2 linked regions of the Homo sapiens genome follow. The protein of the gene in region 1 purifies or fractionates together with the protein of each later gene. This does not show direct contact. Each region holds a gene or a part of one and is shown on either strand. Other genes may lie near its edges.

Region 1 (9,169 bases):
AAATAAAACCAAGCATTCCTCCTATGGTCCAGACAGCTTCTTAAGGACAGATAAAGTCAGCATTCCTAAGCACCAGGGTAGCCAAGGGAGTGTTGTAGGTTTATAGGGGTAAGATAATGTCTCTTTCTTCCACTTCCCACCACTTAGTTCAAACCCATAAGTTTAAATGAGATAAGGAGAACTGTCTCTTAGGAAGGGTTGGGAAAGAAAAAAAAGAAAGGCTGTGGTGGCCTGAAGACCACTTGAGTCATTTCTTCCATAATCACAATCTAATTTTCCAATAAATTGCAAGCATTCCTAGAACCACAGACTTCACTTAAGCCAAACTCTGTCAATTTCACACTGCCATGTATGGATGAGCATAAATGAGTTTCTCTTTTCAGGCCCCAATTGTATATACTTTACAGAACTTCATTGAGAAAGTTATTCGTTTCTTTCCTTTTCTCCTTTGTATCATAGCTCATTTAATTTCAATATAATAAAATCCATTAACCTTCTAGAAACTAAGGTTTTGAAAAGTTATTTTTCCCATGTTTAGTTATTGCAACAGATATTCATTATAGCTAAGGCAAGACAGTTAGTAGCATAACACCATGGTCCCTCAAAAAATAACAATAAACAAATCTACATATTTTTCATCCCAATATTTTTATCATTCCTTTAGGCATATGCAAAGATCATGTTCACTCCTGGCTGGATAATTCATTCTTTCTTTGTGAAATAGCTGTGGCAGAGGGAGCCATAAATAAAATAAAGCCTCCTAAACAAAGGTTTGCTTTAATCTGTTCATATTGACAATATCTAGTAAATTCTGATATTTCAAACAACTCACCATAACGGGTATAGATCTGGGTTTTTAAGAAATTGACATGATTTATCCAGACACATTTGTGGGTTTTCTTTGAAATAGTAGAGCTTTACTGACTATGACACTTTGCATTTTAAAGAAATTTCATTGCTTTCTCTTGTGTGTCATAGATAATTTTTATATAACTGAATTGTGATTCTCCAGTAGATAAATGGACAAGAAACATAAACATATAATTCTCAAAAGAGAAAACACAAAGCAAAAACGGCTAATTAACATATGTTCAGTGCATATATTCAGTCTCATTAGTGATGAAAGAAATACAAATTTAAGAAATATGTCATGGTGACTTACCTCCTTGTTGACACGAGCAAAGGTAAAAGCAACAGGAATACAGAAGACTGGCTAGAGAGCAGTTAGATGGGCCTGTCACCTACTGAGGAAGGTTGGAGACAGGTGGATTCCCTGGGTTCTGTAAGGCTGCAAGAACTGGAAACATGCTCAGGTTACCTTAGACAGCAGTATCTTGTGAAATAAATGCCTGAGGGAGGGAAAATGGGAAACATGTGATCAGTCCTCGTGGCACCTAGAATGTTCTTCAGGATCCACAATTCTAGAAGTTCAAGGGCAGCTGTGGTCACTCAACTTGCTTGAGTTGTTCCTACAGAATCTGGCATACATTGCTCGCTCCCATAGTGCTCTGTTGTATGGTAATACAGGACTCTCTCTGAAGACTGACTCCAACTGGCTAAATCAAAAAGGAAAGCATTGGTCCTCTTGAATGGAAGGTCTAAGGACAGGATTTGCTCAGGACAGCTGGAGCTGAGGGCTTTAGTGGAGGTATTCTCTGTCTCTGTCAGCCCTGCTGTCCTTTGAACTGGCTTCACTTTAAAGCAGGCTTTTTCCATGTGGTGGCCCCTGGTAGGTCACTTCACATCTCTAATCCTGTTTCCTCATTCTAGAAAAATGGAGCTACTAGCCACCTGCATAAGTACAATGTGAGGATCCCATGAGATAGACTATATGTAAATGCTTTCAAGCTGCCACATTTCAGAGGACTTTATTATTTGATATGAGCTCAGTGGCCTGTTTTGGAACAGTCTTTAACATGGCATCTGTACCGTCTTCCCTGTTTCTGATTATTAATAAGATGGTATTGCTTTTGTTAAGCAAGCCTGCTCTGCAACTTGGCACAGAGGGGGAAAAAAGTCATCCTCTTTATCAAGAATATCAAGAATGAGGGGCATTATTATTTTTTTTTAAATTGGCATTTAAAAAAATTAAGTTCTAAGGCCCTGGGAGCCTATGGAAGAGTCTCAAGGACCACAATGTGTGTGGAAGGGCCGGATAGCAGTGGGCAAGGCTGACTGGGTGGAGCTGCCCTGTTTAATAAGAGCAGGCCTGCTTTTGTCTGTTTTCTACACCATGATTCTGGATGAGATTTTACATCAAAAAGGAGAGTGGTAATATGATTAAAATAGGAGCAGCTTTGGCAGCAAAACAGAAGAAATGAGCCAAACGCTGACATTAATTGACTAAAAGCTAATGAAAGCAGAACTGAATCAATCAATTACAGCAAAATTGAACATCACTTGACAATATCTAGAATTCAATATTTTTTAAGTAGATCAGTAATAGCTCAAAGTGGTATGTATTTCATTGGCCTAGGCCTGAAATTCTCCTCATTCCTCTGGCTCACCTCTGGGACTAAGGACACTGAGAAGCCTCTGCAATGGATGGGCTCAACCGGCCAACCAGCCCTCCTACACTATATGGTATACAATATTAGTGTTTACCAACCCCTCCTTGTTCTGGCCAATGCAATGTGAGTAGAATTAGTGTGTGTTTTCTCTTTGACTCTGAGCAAGTTGCCGACCTGTCTCATTTTTCTCATCTATAAAGCATAATATCTACATTACAGGGTTGCTGAAGAGATCAAATTATAAACACACACATGCACACATAGCTAGCATTTAACAGTATCTAACAGTTGGTAGGGAATCAATAAACCTAGGTACCCTTTCTCTCTGTTCCCTTCCTTCTAACCATTTCTAAGCTCGGTAATGTGCTGTTTTGATCTCACAGGCTCTAGAACTAGGACTCCTTAAAGTCCTTACTCCAAGGTCTGTGTCCTCTACATCCCTGCTAGGGCTTTGAAACTAGAAGTGAATGCTGCCAAATCCTCTGACTTATCGCTCTTTGTAGTGCACTTCAACTCTAAAGACGAAATCACGGCCAGGGCGACAGGCTAAAGTCTGAGTCAGGGTGAGCTTTTGGGGAAACGGCGTGGAGCGGGTGGTGGTGTCAGCTCTCTCCTCGCCTACACTTCAGCTCCTTTCTGCCCACATCCATTCAGGGCATTGCCCTGTTTGTCTCCTCAGCTGTCTTCTGTATTAACCTCCAGCCTGTTGGGTGCATTCAGTTCTGCCAGCTGGACTTTCAATATGTATTTAAAAAGACACATAAACAAAAAACAAAAACAAAAACAAAAAAACTTTACTAGAAGCCAAAGGAAAACCATCATATTCAAAAATATAAATATAAAAGCAAAGAAATGCATACATTTACTGGACAAAGAGGTCTCATCTTGAGTAAACTGGGAGCACTCCGAGATGTCTGGAGGTCTTGGAGGCTACACGCTATCCATTGATACCTCCTGTCAAATTCTGAACATGCAGAAATTACCAGATCTCAAAGTCCTCATTTCTTGTTGAATTTTAGTGAAAAAAACTTCCCTGGATCCCACCGTAGTTGAGTCTTGGAACAGGGTGTTAATCTTTATATTATAAAATGTCCTTGACTAGAGATAATAGGCAGTATGAAACATTATATTTTTAAAAAGGAAACATAATATTGAAAAAAAAAGAGAAATACTGTTGCAGTGACTTGGAATCCCCAGTTCTCAAAGGGAAGAAGGCCAATAAAGAAGTGGGAGAAGAAAGTCTGAGAACCGCATGAAAAGGGTCCTGTTCCCACTAGGACCATGGTCCACTCACCAAATTATCAGAGACGTTTGAACCAGAGCAACTCCATCTTGAATAGGAGCTGGGTAAAATAAGGCTGAGACCTACTGGGCTACACTCCCAGGAGGTTAGACATTCTAAGTCACAGAATGAGATAGAAGGTAGGCACAAGACACAGGTCATAAAGACCTTGCTGATAAAACAGGTTGCAGTAAGGAAGCTGGCCAAAACCCACCAAAACCAGGATGGCAATGAGAGTGTCCTCTGGTCGTCACTGCTACGGTCTCACCAGCTCCATGACAGTTTACAAATGCCACTGCAACGTCGGGAAGCTACCCTATATGGTCTAAAAAGGGGAGGCATGAATAATTTCCCCCGCTTAGCATATAATCAAGAAATAACCCTAAAAATGGACAACCAACAGCCCTTGGGGGTGCTCTGCCTATGAGTAGCCATTCTTTTATTCCTTTAGTTTCTTAATTACTTGCTTTCACTTTACTCCATGGACTCCCCTCAAATTCTTTCTTGCGCAAAATCCAAGAACCCTCTCTTGGGGTCTGGATCGGGACCCATTTTCGGTAATAAACTTGTAGCATTTGGTGTTTTAATGTTTGTGTTTTCTTGACTTGTTACCTCATTTAGCCTCAACTGTTTAAAGATGGTCTTTTTGGCCATTTTATTCAGCTTTAATTGTTCTAAGGGGAGTGAAGAAATGGTCATTTACTTTGAAAAATCAGAGGGAACGTGTTGATGCGGGAAGCAGCTAATCCTTGGGGTACAGTGGCCCTTGGTAGTGCAGGAAAGTCCTGGGGGCCACCTCTAACCCACCTTCCTCCTCTACAGCATCTCCCACTGTAGTCATTCTCTACCGAAGCCCCAGAAGGTGCGGCACTTTGCCACGACAGAGTACTGGGTTCATGTTTCTTTCCGAGGCGGGCCAAGAGCTCTCAGCCCACTGGCAGTGGCGAGATGACGGACACCCAGCGAGTCCAATGGGCGTCGAACGCGTCTAGGCTTGGTGGACTTGTCAGCGCCTGCCTGGCTTCGGTCCCCAACTTGAGCACCGGCCCTTTCCTGCATGCCCCTAACCCTCGCAACGCTAAACAGTGAAAAAAAAAAAAAGACAAAAACAAAAAGCATCTCAACACACACACACACACACACACACACACACACACACACACACACACACACACACACACACACACACACACACACGGATCCGCGTTCAGAAAGGCGTGCACTTCCTACGCCTGATCCCCCGCATCGCAACCTCGCAGCTTCCCCGGCGTGCAGCGCTCATTTACCAATTCCCTTCCTGGGAGTTGCGGCTTCCCTCGCTCGGCCCCACTCCCGTTTACCCTTTCCCCAGCTCCCGCCTTAGCCAGGGGCTTCCCCGCCTGCCGCTAGGGCTCGGGCCGAAGCGCCGCTCAGCGCCAGCCTGCCGCTCCCCGGGCTCCACTTTCACTTTCGGTCCTGGGGGAGCTAGGCCGGCGGCAGTGGTGGTGGCGGCGGCGCAAGGGTGAGGGCGGCCCCAGAACCCCAGGTACAGCGCGCTCGAGCCGCGGGTAGGGGACTGCGGGCCGGGAGGAGAGCGCGGCACCCGCCCCTTCCCTGCGCCCGTCAAGTGGGGGGCTGAGGGCCTGGGGCACGGGAGGAGGGAGACGGGGCACGGGAGGAGGGAGACGGGGCGCGGGAGGAAGGCGACGGGGCGCGGGAGGAAGGCGACGGGGCGCGAGACAGGGCGCGGGAAGGGCGGGGGGAGTCGCTGGCTAGGCCCGAGTCCGCGGGGTGCCCGGCGGGTTGGCGGCGGGCCCACCCCTGCCGGTCCCTGTCCCTGTCCCTCCGGGCGCGTGGCCGGTGCGCCTGCTTCACGGGTCTCCCCGCTGTTCGGCCGGCGGGAGCCTCCCTCAGCGCTCCGCCTGGCGCCTGGATGCCTGCCAGTCCTGCAGGCCACCGACGCCCGCGCGAGGCCAAAAGGCGGGGTGGGGCGGGCAGCTGGCTCGGGCTGAGGAGGGCACCTGCCCATAGCTGCTAGAGAAACCCAGAGGCTTTGGGTTAAAGACTCTGGTGGGGTGGGATGCGCGGGCCGTGTGTGTTCTTAAGGTCACTTCCCTCCCTGCTTCTCCTGTTCTTCTGGTCAGCAATTCTCTCTCTCCCCTTCGCTCTGGCTCTGGCTGGGTTTTATTCAGATAAAGCACCTCTGTTGACGCAAATTAAAAGTTTCCTATCTGGGTGCCTCACTGGCCAGGTGGTCCTACAAAGTTAATTCCATGAGGGGAAGGGGGAGAGCACACACTTCCTCACGCTTTTGGATTTCTTTGTGTAGGCTAGGTTCAGAAAGAAATTATCTGTTTCCTATTAAACACCCAGAGGATTCGCTCTGAACTCAGGACGTGGTCAACAATTAACAAAACAACAAAACAAAACAAAACAAAACAAAAAACTTGAAAATTGGGCACAGTTGTCTCTTGCCTGAGGATTTTTAATTAGTATAAGTAGCACATTTTCAGGTGCGGCCTGAATAGAAACATTCTAGTACTTTTTTTTTTTTCAAATTAATCCAGCATTTTTATTATTTACCAACAGTGCTTGTTAATTTCATTGTTCAGGAAATTCTGGAAGAACCTCAATTACTTCTTGATGATCTATTTCATATACTATAGTGCCCCAATAAAAGGAAGGGAGGCAGAGGTTGCAGTGAGCCAAGATCGCACCACTGCACTCCAGCCTGGGAGACAGAGCGAGACTCCGTCTCAAAAAAAAAAAAAAAAAAAAAAAAGAGGGATCTTGGTGAAGCTGAAAAAGCAGGGAGTTTATACTCACACAGATGTGGATTGCATTCCAACAAGTTGTGTGAACTTAGCAAAGTTACATGAATGGTTCTTTGCTTCAGTTACCCCACCTTGAATGAGAATAATAGGCTATTAGAGAGAGTGAGCATGTGTAAAGTGCCTGGCACTTTGGAGGAGCTTAGTAAATATTAGTTCTTTTTCCTCCTTGGCTTCTATTCCTTTAAGTGTTAGTGGAGTGTAACTTCAAAGAGAATTGTACTTCTCTTGGGAAGAGCTGCTTATATTGAGTAGACTACTGTTTTTGAGAGCTTTCTTTTTTTTTAACTGCCTCCCTTTCAGAAAATTGTTAGTAAAACCAGACCCTAGGAGACCAGCCAGAACCATGAAATGCCATGTTTCAAACTGGAACACTTACTATTGGAAGCAAAGCCAAACAAGAGCTAATTTTTCAGGGGAAGAGCCAAACACACGAACATGATCACAGAATCTTGGATGTAGCCTACAGTTTGGGATTAATAAGAGAATTTATTAGTGAAGCCCTTTATTCACTACATGGAGTTTTTACCAAGCCCCACTCATGCACTGCATCCTCGTTGAGACATAACTGTTTCTCTTTGGACCCCTCATGGACCCAACCCTGCAAAGCCTCTGATCCAAGGTCCCGGTACCAACCCCTTCCGCAGCACATCAGCCTTTCTGTCAGCTCATAACGAGTTGGAATTTCTAGATCTTCTCTGGGGCTGTTGGAGAGGTCTCGGGGACTTTCAGAGTCCTTACATGCTTGAACCTGCCACCTTCACAGAGTCCTCTGGATCCCGTCTTGGGGCAGGGGCGATGCTCATTAAGCTGTTGCTGCCAGTAATTCCATATGGAAAGCAAAACACAAGTTCCATTTACTCTCTAGTTCCCCAACTTCAAGGGCAAAAAAATGTTCTCCCTGTTCACACTTCCTGTCTCACCTGGGTGGTGCCTTTTGAACTGGGATTATGAGATTTCCAAGACTCTCTCTAATGTGTAGGTATCCTTTCTGTTTAGCCTCCAGATTGCTCCAGAGGTGAGGAGAAGGGAATTCCCTTGAGCTGTGCATTTGGGAAGGGAGCAAGGAAGTCAGGGGTTAGGGAAGGCACTTCAGCCATTGCCTTGAATTAGTATCCTATCACATAGAGTTGAAGGGGGAAAGCCAGGATTTGGCAAGGATGAGCTTTTCAACCTTGGCTTCTCAGTAAAATCTCTGGACAGTTTTTTTTTTTTTTAAAAAAAAAAACCAAAAACCAGAAATTAAACAATCCGTAAAACCATACCCCGATCTTATCACCATAGGTTCCAGTTTAATTGTTGTCAATAAGGACCCAGGCATCGAAAATTTTAAAAGCTTCCCAGGTTACATTAATATGCAGCCAGAGTTAGGAAACTTGACATCTCAGAGAGGGAGAATTCCATGTACTGTGAACACTTTGAGGGATCCACATTGTAAGCTTGCTACTTTTCCCAACTGGAACACGAGGAGTTTGGGCCAATCACTTGCATTCACCTGGTATGGGCCCCTCTTGGCAAACACCCATTAGAAAGGTGCGTTTGTATAAAAGAAATAAAAACTTATGTTTGATGCTTGGGGCATGGTTTGCCAACTTCCTTAAAATTCACATTGCCTTTTTTTTTTTTTTTTAAAGACAGAGTCTTGCTCTGTTGCCAGGCTGGAGTGCAGTGGTGCAATCTCAGCTCACTGCAACTCTGCCTCCCAGGTTCAAGCGATTCTCCTGCCTCAGCCTCCCAAGTAATTAGGACTACAGGTGCGCACCACCACACCCAGCTAATTTTTGTATTTTTAGTAGAGACGGGATTTCGCCATGTTGGCCAGGATGGTCTCAATCTGTTGACCTTGTGATCTGCCCACCTCATCCTCCCAAAGTGCTGGGATTACAGGCGTGAGCCACCATGCCTGGCCTGAAATTCACATTGCTTTTATGTCTTTAAAATCAATCCAGGTGATTGATACGTTTGCCACAAACTACTGGGAAAATTAAGCTCTTTAAGCTCTTCCTGGCTAAATAAATAGGTAATTAACTTTTGGCATGACAATTTGAGGAAGACACTGATGTTATTAAAGGTTACCATTACATATACTTACAGGGGAAGTGGAGACCTCGTTCTAGTGGTGGCTGCCACTGTGTCAGCATTTGATTTCCAGGGTACTAGGGTGACTTTCTCCAAGGTCCAGTGTCAGTGGGGAGTGGTGCTTGATCAGATGTTCCTCTGATATGGTTCTGGTTTTGCTTCTTTCATGAGCCTGGTTTCCCAAATGTCCTGCAACTCTGTGACCCGTGTAGTGAGCCACTCAGGATCCCCTAATGATTCCTTTTCTGCCTATATCAGCCAGAGCTTGTTCGGTTGCTTTCAACCAAGAACCCTGACAGGTAGAGTTAATTTAAACTTTGAACATCAAATGATGCTTTCTAGTACGTGTTAATGATTGTTGCTAACTGTAAACATCTTTCTTATATGAAACCATAACATAGGGAAGGTCCTTTTACTTTCAGGAAAAGACCTAGTACTTTTGGAAGTTTATGCCTATTTCTGTGAATGCTGGGTGGATACATTCTGAA
Region 2 (8,268 bases), on another chromosome or scaffold:
CTTTTGAAATATTCTTCATTTGGTTAAAGATGTTCCTTTCTATTCCTAGTTTAATGAGAATAGTTTCCTTTTTTAAAAAAAATGTTAAGAATGAATACTTAGCTTTATCAAATAGTTTAATTGTACTGATTTAAATGATCATATGGGCTTTCTCATTTAATAAGTTAATGTCATACATTAAATTAACTGATCTTCTAACATTAAATCATTGTTGAACTTCTGGGATACCACTACTTGGTTTTGACACACACACGCATATTCTCTCTGTCTGTCTGTCTCTCTCTCTCTTTCTCTTCCTCTCCTCCCTCCCTCCCTCTCCCTCTCTCCCTGTCCCTCTCCCCCTCACTCATACATGTGTATCCTCCTGTCTTTTTAGGCCCATGACTTTCTAATGGATTATAGTCTCAAGGCACAGTTACCAGTGTTCATTTTCAACCTTCTTTCTTTGAAAAGGCTGGAAGAGAAGCTTTATTCCACCCTACTTCAGCTTCTTCATGCATCCAGCCTGGCTCTGGTCCCTCTTCTTTTTCTTTGAAACCTACTAGCTTCAATGATCCCATGTACTACCGTAGTACATTGGTAGTGTACTTCCAACTACCATAGATCCCATAGGGACAGCACTTCCAACTACCATAGCCTGCTTCTGGCCCAAGAGCCCAACATGATCATGGAGTCGGCCTCGTGCACTGTTTTGAGTTTCTGTTTTGATTCTTGGAAATGTCTGTCTTGTTTTTGAGCTTATATCCTTTTTTGTTTTTTTCTTTTTCTTTTTTTTTTTCTTTTTTTTTTTGAGATAGAGTCTCACTCTGTCACCCAGGCTGGAGTGCAGTGGTGTGATCTTGACTCATTGCAACCTCTGACTCCTGGGTTCAAGTGATTCTGCTGCCTCAGCCTCCCAAGTAGCTGGGATTGCTGGCCTGCACCATCACACCTAGCTAATTTTTGTATTTTTAGTACATTGTGTTTTTACAACCTACTAAATTATTATTTATCTGCTAAATTATTAAATCTACTAGATTTTTATTTAGTAGATTGTATTTTTAGTTTCACCATGTTGGCCAGGCTGGTCTTGAACTCCTGACTTCAAGTAATCTGCCCGCCTTGGCCTCGCAATGTGCTGGGATTACAGGTGTGAGCCGCCGCACCTGGCCTTGTTTTTTCATTTTAAAAATACCCGTCTTTTTTTGGAATGGAGAAGATACATCATCACTAATACAGTTTTATCATTTTTCTTCCCTTCATCGAAACCTTTAATGGATGGCTCCCCATTGCCTATAAAATGACTACATTTTGCAGCAAGGTTTATAAAACTCTTTACAACTGGTCCCAGTTTACCTTTTGCTGCCTTATGTCAAAACACCACTACTATATGGTATTATATGCAGTCTCAGACTATATTTGTTCTTTAAATATACCACACATTTTCACAGCTGTTTTGTTCATGTTATTTCCTCTACCTAGAAGGCTTTTTACTTTGTTCTGGAAAATACATACTTATCCTTCTAGTCTGGCTGAGAGGGATAGTTCTCTACTTATCCTTCTAGTCTGGCTGAGAGGGATAGTTCTCTATGTAGCTTGTCAACTCCCTCTCCCCTGCAAGGTGGTTACCCATTTGATGGCAGAAAACATCTTACTCATGTTTCTGTCTGCTGTGTTTTCCATAGGCCTGTCAAATAATAAGTGCTTAGTAAATGTATATTTTAGCATAGAGCAGGGGCTAGCAAATTTTTTTCTTAAAGAGTCAGGTAGTAAATTTTTTCTCTATTATAACTACCCAACTCTGCGAGGTGGTGCAGAGGCAGCTGTAGACAATATGTAAATGAGTGGATGTGGCTGTGTTCCAATAAAACTTTATTAACAGAAAAAGCTGGTGGCCAGATTTGGCCCATGTGCTATATTTTGCTGACCAAGGCATAGAGTAAGCAAAGAATATGATCCAAGTATTTACTAATTATTTTGTTTACTCTTTTATTGAATTAGGAAGGTATAGATTTAATAATAGTTCTGCTCTGAAATTTTTATAATTGCTCTTATGGAATGCTCTTTTTTTCATGTAAGTATTGGATGTAGTTTACTTTAAATAATGGTATATCAGAAGCTAGTAGGGAATTGTTGAATGAACAGTTATTAGTCTGTCTCTAGGGATGATCACCACTCAAGTCAGATTTTTATTTATTAATTATGCCTAGAATTTATCCAAATTATTTTATCAATACAATAATAAAATAGTCCATCTTGAAATAGTTTTTAAAATTACAGATAATCTTAAAATTAGTCAATGTTTGCTTTACTAAGGCAAATATGTCTTTCAGATATATGTTATTACTGTTACTTTATCTGTCTCATTAAACACTTTGTTATTAACAAATTCTTTGAAAAATGTTAACTAGCAGGTTTTGGGGAAGTTCAATTCTATGTTTATTGGATGGAGCTTTGCCTTGAAGCATCTGAACTTTTGAGTTATTTTTATTTTGGAGTGAGCATCTAGGGTACCTGATTGTGAAGCTAGATTTCAATCTTGTATGAGGGATGGTATATTTTTTTGTGTGAGTTAATTTAAATTTTTAAGTTTTTTTCCAATGCCTTCATTCCGAAAATGATACATGAATGTAGCAATAAAAGAAAATTGGAGTCCATGAAAAAATAGTAAAGCAATAGGAAAATACAGGTGAGGAAAGATAGAAAACAAAGAAGATGGCAATATGTAAAAAGGAAGTCCTGTAAGGCATATTTTACTGATGTGTTGTAAGGAAAAGTATATATGAAGTATGTTTAGAATTTAGAGTATGTGTAGAGTTGTTCCAGATGGGCAGCCAGAGAAGGCTGTGTGGAGGAAATATTCAATCTAGTCTTTTTTAAGATGTGAGTATGGAAACAAAAGAGCCTTCCCACTTCAGACTATGGTGGAGGCATGGAAACCTGTGCAGGACACAGCATGAACTATGAGGACACTTAATGACTTTCCAAGTGCTGTACAAATATAATGTAATATTGACCAGGATTGAAGTGCCTAAAAGTAAATGACCCAATGAAATTCTTACTAAGTTCATTAAACAAATATTAGGCAATATTTTTGTTTAATTTCTGCATCCTGTAAATTAATTCTGAGGACTCTGTTTTGGCAGTGACTGTTGAAGTGAAGGGTCCCTATGAATACCTCACACTTGAAGACTATCCCTTGATGATTGTAAGTGACTTTATATTATTTAACCTCAGTATTGGATGGTTTTGGGTTCAAAGATTGTCCCATGTTTTGTGGCAGTATTCTTTTTAATGAATTGTTCCTGTGCAATTCAGAAAATGTTGCTTGTAGTCCTGGATTTATTTCTTATTAGACTGGGACTTTGAGAGAGTCAGTATACCCTTGTGTGCCTCATTTTCTTATCCATATAATGAAGGGGTCAGTGACCTGTGGAAATACCTCAAAGATCATCTCACATTCTCTCTAGGATGCATAGTGGGGCACTTTTTACTACAACTCTATTGTTTCTGATCCCACTTACATTAACTAAATGAGGCTGGGTGCCCTGGCTCATGCCTGTAATCCCAACATTTTGGGAAGCTGAGGCGGGCAGATCACTTGAGGTCAGGAGTTTGAGACCAGCCTGGCCAACATGGTGAAACCCCATCTCTACTAAAAATACAAAAATTAGCTGGGCGTGGTGGTAGGCGCCTGTAGTCCCAGCTACTCGGGAGGCTAAAGCAGAATTGCTTGAACCCAGGAGACAGAGGCTTCTGTGAGCTGAGATCTTGCCACTGCACTCCAGCCTGGGCGACAGAGTGAAACTGTCTCAACAACAAAAAATTAACAAAATGATGAAGCTCCCTTCTCTTCATTTTGTGTGTGTATGTGTGTATGTGTGCACATACATGTATGTGTGCATACGTCTGTGTCTCAGAATATCCTTAATATATTTTCAATTTTCTTTGTTCATGATTATTCTCTTCTTCCTTTCCCTTTAATAGTTTTCCCGTTTTGTTGTGTTTCCTTGCCTCTAGATGTATCCTAATCATCATGCCATTTTTCTTCTTCAGTGTTGTCTTCATCTATATAATTTTAGATCGTGAGCTGAAATAGCTCCTTCTTTAAAAAAAAAAAAAAAAAAAGAGAGTCTCACTCTGTCTCCCAGGCTGGAGTGCAGTGGCATGATAATGGATAATGGCTCACTGCAGCCTTAAACTCCAGGCTGAAGCTACCCTCCACCTCAGCCTCCCAAGCAGCTAGGACAACAGGCGTGTGCCACTATGCCTGGCTAATTTTTATTTTATTTTATTATTTTTTATCTTGAAACGTAGTCTCACTCTGTCACCCAGACTGGAGTGGAATGGCACGATCTTGGCTCAATGCAACCTCCAGCTCCTGGGTTCAAGCGATTCTCCTGCCTCAGCCTCCTGAGTAGCTGGGACTACAGGTGCGCACCACCATGCCTGGCTAATTTTTGTATTTTTAGTAGAGACGGGGTTTCACCATGTTTTGGCCAGGCTGGTCTTGAACTCCTGACCTCAAGTAATCTGCCCATCTCTGCCTCCCAAATTGCTGGTATTACAGGCATGAGCCACCATGCCTGGCCTAATTTTTATTTTTTGTAGGGACAGAGTCTTGCTATGTTGCCTAGACTGGCCTTGAACTCATGACCTCAAGCAGTCCTCCTGCCTCGGCTTCCCAAAGCACTATTGCAGGTGTGAATTACCACGCCTGACCAGAAAAAGCTCTTTTACTATAGGAGAGCAGGCTGAGTGCTCTCTATATATACCATATATGTGTCTGTGTGTATAATAGAGAGCACCTTTTATATGGTATACATATGTGATACATACATACACACACACACACACACACACACACACACATATATATATATACATATGAGAGCATTCGCTCTTGAGGACAAGTTCATATGTAGTCTTCTCTGCTCAAGACAAGATAATGCTTTCATATTAGTTAATGTTAAGCTCCAAAGGAAGAATTATTTCTTAACTAGAAGGTAGAATATATTTTTGTAACTTGTTAAGACTGTATATTGATTCAGGACAGGCGCTGTGGCTTATGCCTGTAATCCCAACACTTTGGGAGGCAGAGATGGGAGGATTGCTTGAGTCCAGAAGTTCAAGACCATCCTAGGCAACATAGCAAATCCCCATCTCTTAAAAAAAAAAAAAAAGTATATATTGATTCTAAATCTACAGACTTGGCTCTTGGCCCTAATTCTCCTTTTTATCTTTTACCCAATTTGATAACAGTTTTTCATGGTGATGTGTATTGTATATGTCCTGTTTGGTGTTCTGTGGCTGGCATGGTCTGCCTGCTACTGGAGAGATCTCCTGAGAATTCAGTTTTGGATTGGTGCTGTCATCTTCCTGGGAATGCTTGAGAAAGCTGTCTTCTATGCGGAATTTCAGAATATCCGATACAAAGGAGAATCTGGTAAGTAACCAGAAAATCTTTGCCAGTTCGAGTGGTTGGAAGGTGAGATGTATGAAAATATTCCTAAGGTCAGCAGTCACTACATAGGCTTAACTTTTCAATTACTTAATTATTACAATATCTTAAGCAGAATCACTATGACTCTGACTTTTGTTTTTAATCTTATGAGTTCAGTGATGTAAGACTAATTTTACTGAAATATGCTCACAAAAGTCACAACAGTAGTGACCATTTTGGGAATGATTATTAACATCAAATCTCAATTTCTGTTGATTTCTAAGGCACCATTATACATCTAAGAAAAAAAGTAAAGCTGTCAATTTAATTGTAAAATGTCACTGATTGTAAGACACACCTTGATTTAAAAAACCTCAAAATGTGGTGGGAAAGTGCATCTAACTGATAAAATATAGTCATATCAAGAAAATAGGAGAGTGCTTATGGTTTAGTAAGGTGAACTGGTAATGACAGAAGTTGTTTTATACTGTAGTTTTTTGTGATTGCTTCAGTTTTTTCTTGTCAGACCATTTAATTTAGTCATAATTATTATTGTGAGATAAACTGATAAGATTTTCCCTGGTCTTTGAAAGGTCTTGAAAATAGTAGATCTGAAAAAAGTTAAGCTGTACATGCCAACAAGCGTGTACACGAGTGTGTTTTGTGCTTTTCTATGTGTAGCTGTATTTCACAGTTTTTAAAAATGGGGGAAATTGTCTCGATGCTACAAACTGTCCATATAGGGTGAGGTATTCTGTTAAAGTTTTAGTGAATTTGGGGCCAGGTCGGGGAGGGAGCTGAGTTGAGCGCACCCAGATTGCCATACATAGACATGAGTAAGATTGTGAGTGGCATCAGCTTGTATCCTGTAAAAACTGTGGAAGAGGTATTCTATTTTAGCAGGACTAATATCAATGCTTATTCTGAAGAGTGTAGAAAGCAGCAGTCTAGTATTGGCATCTGGCCTGTTGCCAAACCTAGATTATGGTGCCATTTCTTCCCTTCTTTTTCATAGTCCAGGGTGCTTTGATCCTTGCAGAGCTGCTTTCAGCAGTGAAACGCTCACTGGCTCGAACCCTGGTCATCATAGTCAGTCTGGGATATGGCATCGTCAAGTAAGTATTAACTTCCTGTATGGAAGAGCAAATTAAAATGCTGATTAAATTAAAACAGTATTGCATGTTCCCAATGTAGTAGTTCTGAAATAGTTGATAAAAGAAATAATTCTGAAACAAGAAAGGTATTTGAAATTTTGTAGCATTGTAAATGTTGGGAAAATGTGTTTCATTTTCCATACTTCCAAATATATTCCATACTTCCAAATATATTCCATACTTCCAAGTCCAAATGTATTCCATACTTCCAAATCCAAATGTATTCCATACTTCCGAATATATTTCCATACTTCCAAAATATTTTTTGCAAATTAGATTTTTTATGGGAAACGCATTCTTGCTGTAACTGTCTGAAAATATTTTTCTATCCAAAAAATTTTATTTTTATTGAGGAGTGTCTTCTATAGGCATTCTTTGAGGCATTGTTCTAGGCCCTGGGGATATGGCAAGTAAACAGAAGATTTTGAGCTTACATTTGTGGAGGGAGGGGACAAAGACAAAATTTAAGTGGGTAAAATATTTTAATATGTCAGTGGAAAGTGCAGTGGAGCAGGTAATGCAGGAGCTAGAGCTTGCAGTTGTACATAGGGTGATCAAGGAGGGCTTCACTTAATGACATTTAAGCAGAGACTTCAAGGAGGTGAGGGAGCTATATGTATACCCAAGGGAAGAGATGCTGAATTGAGATCAGATTCTATATATATTTTGAAGGTGGAACCAGTGGAATTTGCTGATGGATCAGATGTATGATAGGAAAGAGAAGAGGAATTAAGGATGATGCCAATTGTTTTGATCTGATAAAATGGCAGGATGGAATTGAAGATTTACTGAGTTCAGGAAGACCTTAGGTGAAATAAGTGTGGAGCAGGGGCAAGATTGGAGTTGAATTAGATAACTAAGTAGGGGAAACAAAGGGGAGAGGTTGGGGCAGAGATAAAAGTTTGGGAGTCATGAAGATAAAGATATTATTTAAAGTCATGAAGGCCAGGCGTGGTGGCTTACGCCATAATCCTCACACTTTGGGAGGCCAAGGCGGGCAGATTGCCTGAGGTCAGGAGTTCAAGACCAGCCTGGACAACACAGTGAAACCCTGTGTCTGCTAAAATACAAAAAATTAGCCGGCTGTGGTGGCATGCACCTGTAGTCCCAGCTACTTGGAAGGCTGAGGCAAGAGAATCGCTTGAACCCTGGAGGCGGAGATTGCAGTGAGCCAAGATCATGCCACTGCACTCTAGCCTGGGTAACAGAACGAGACTCCATCTCCAAAGTTAAATAAATAAATAAATAAAGTCATGAGACTGGATTTGGTCACCAAGGAAGTGAGTATATATAGAGAAGAGGTCCAAGGGCTGGGCCCTTGAATATTTAATATTATTTAGAAGTCTGTAAGATGAAGTAGTTAGCAGAAGAAATTGAGGAGAGACCAGTGAGGTGGGTAGAAAACTGAAGAATGTGTTTCAAGGAGGAAGTGATTGTGTCAAGAGATCCTGATAGGTCAAGTGAGAATTGGCCATTGAGTTTACCTATATGGAGGGTCATAGTGATAGTTTTGGTGAAGAGATAGGGACAAAAGCCTAATTGGGGAGAGTTCCAGAGAGTATAGGAGGAGAGGAATTAGAATAATTGTATAGACAATTATTTAAAGGAATTTTGCTTTAAGTGGGATTAAGTAATGCTATAGCATCACTTTATAGTGCTTTAAGTAGGATTAAGGTTAGTTGTTTTAAGTTT

Evidence for each region.
Region 2: the proteins of ERAP1 (region 1) and TMEM87A purify together in Homo sapiens (affinity purification with mass spectrometry; 2 studies listed by BioGRID and IntAct, with this or other methods). This does not show direct contact.

What each region holds. Positions count from the first base shown.
Region 1 is NC_000005.10:96,804,008-96,813,176, reverse strand, and holds the start of ERAP1 (endoplasmic reticulum aminopeptidase 1 isoform b precursor), read left to right. Parts: upstream 1-5,231; 5' UTR 5,232-5,317; exon of another isoform or gene 5,318-5,719; intron 5,720-9,169. UniProt on the Homo sapiens protein: Aminopeptidase that plays a central role in peptide trimming, a step required for the generation of most HLA class I-binding peptides.
Region 2 is NC_000015.10:42,234,589-42,242,856, reverse strand, and holds part of TMEM87A (transmembrane protein 87A isoform 1 precursor), read left to right. Parts: intron 1-3,125; coding exon 3,126-3,187; intron 3,188-5,241; coding exon 5,242-5,425; intron 5,426-6,437; coding exon 6,438-6,537; intron 6,538-8,268. UniProt on the Homo sapiens protein: Potential monoatomic ion channel gated by mechanical force, implicated in normal touch sensitivity through the generation of mechanically activated currents.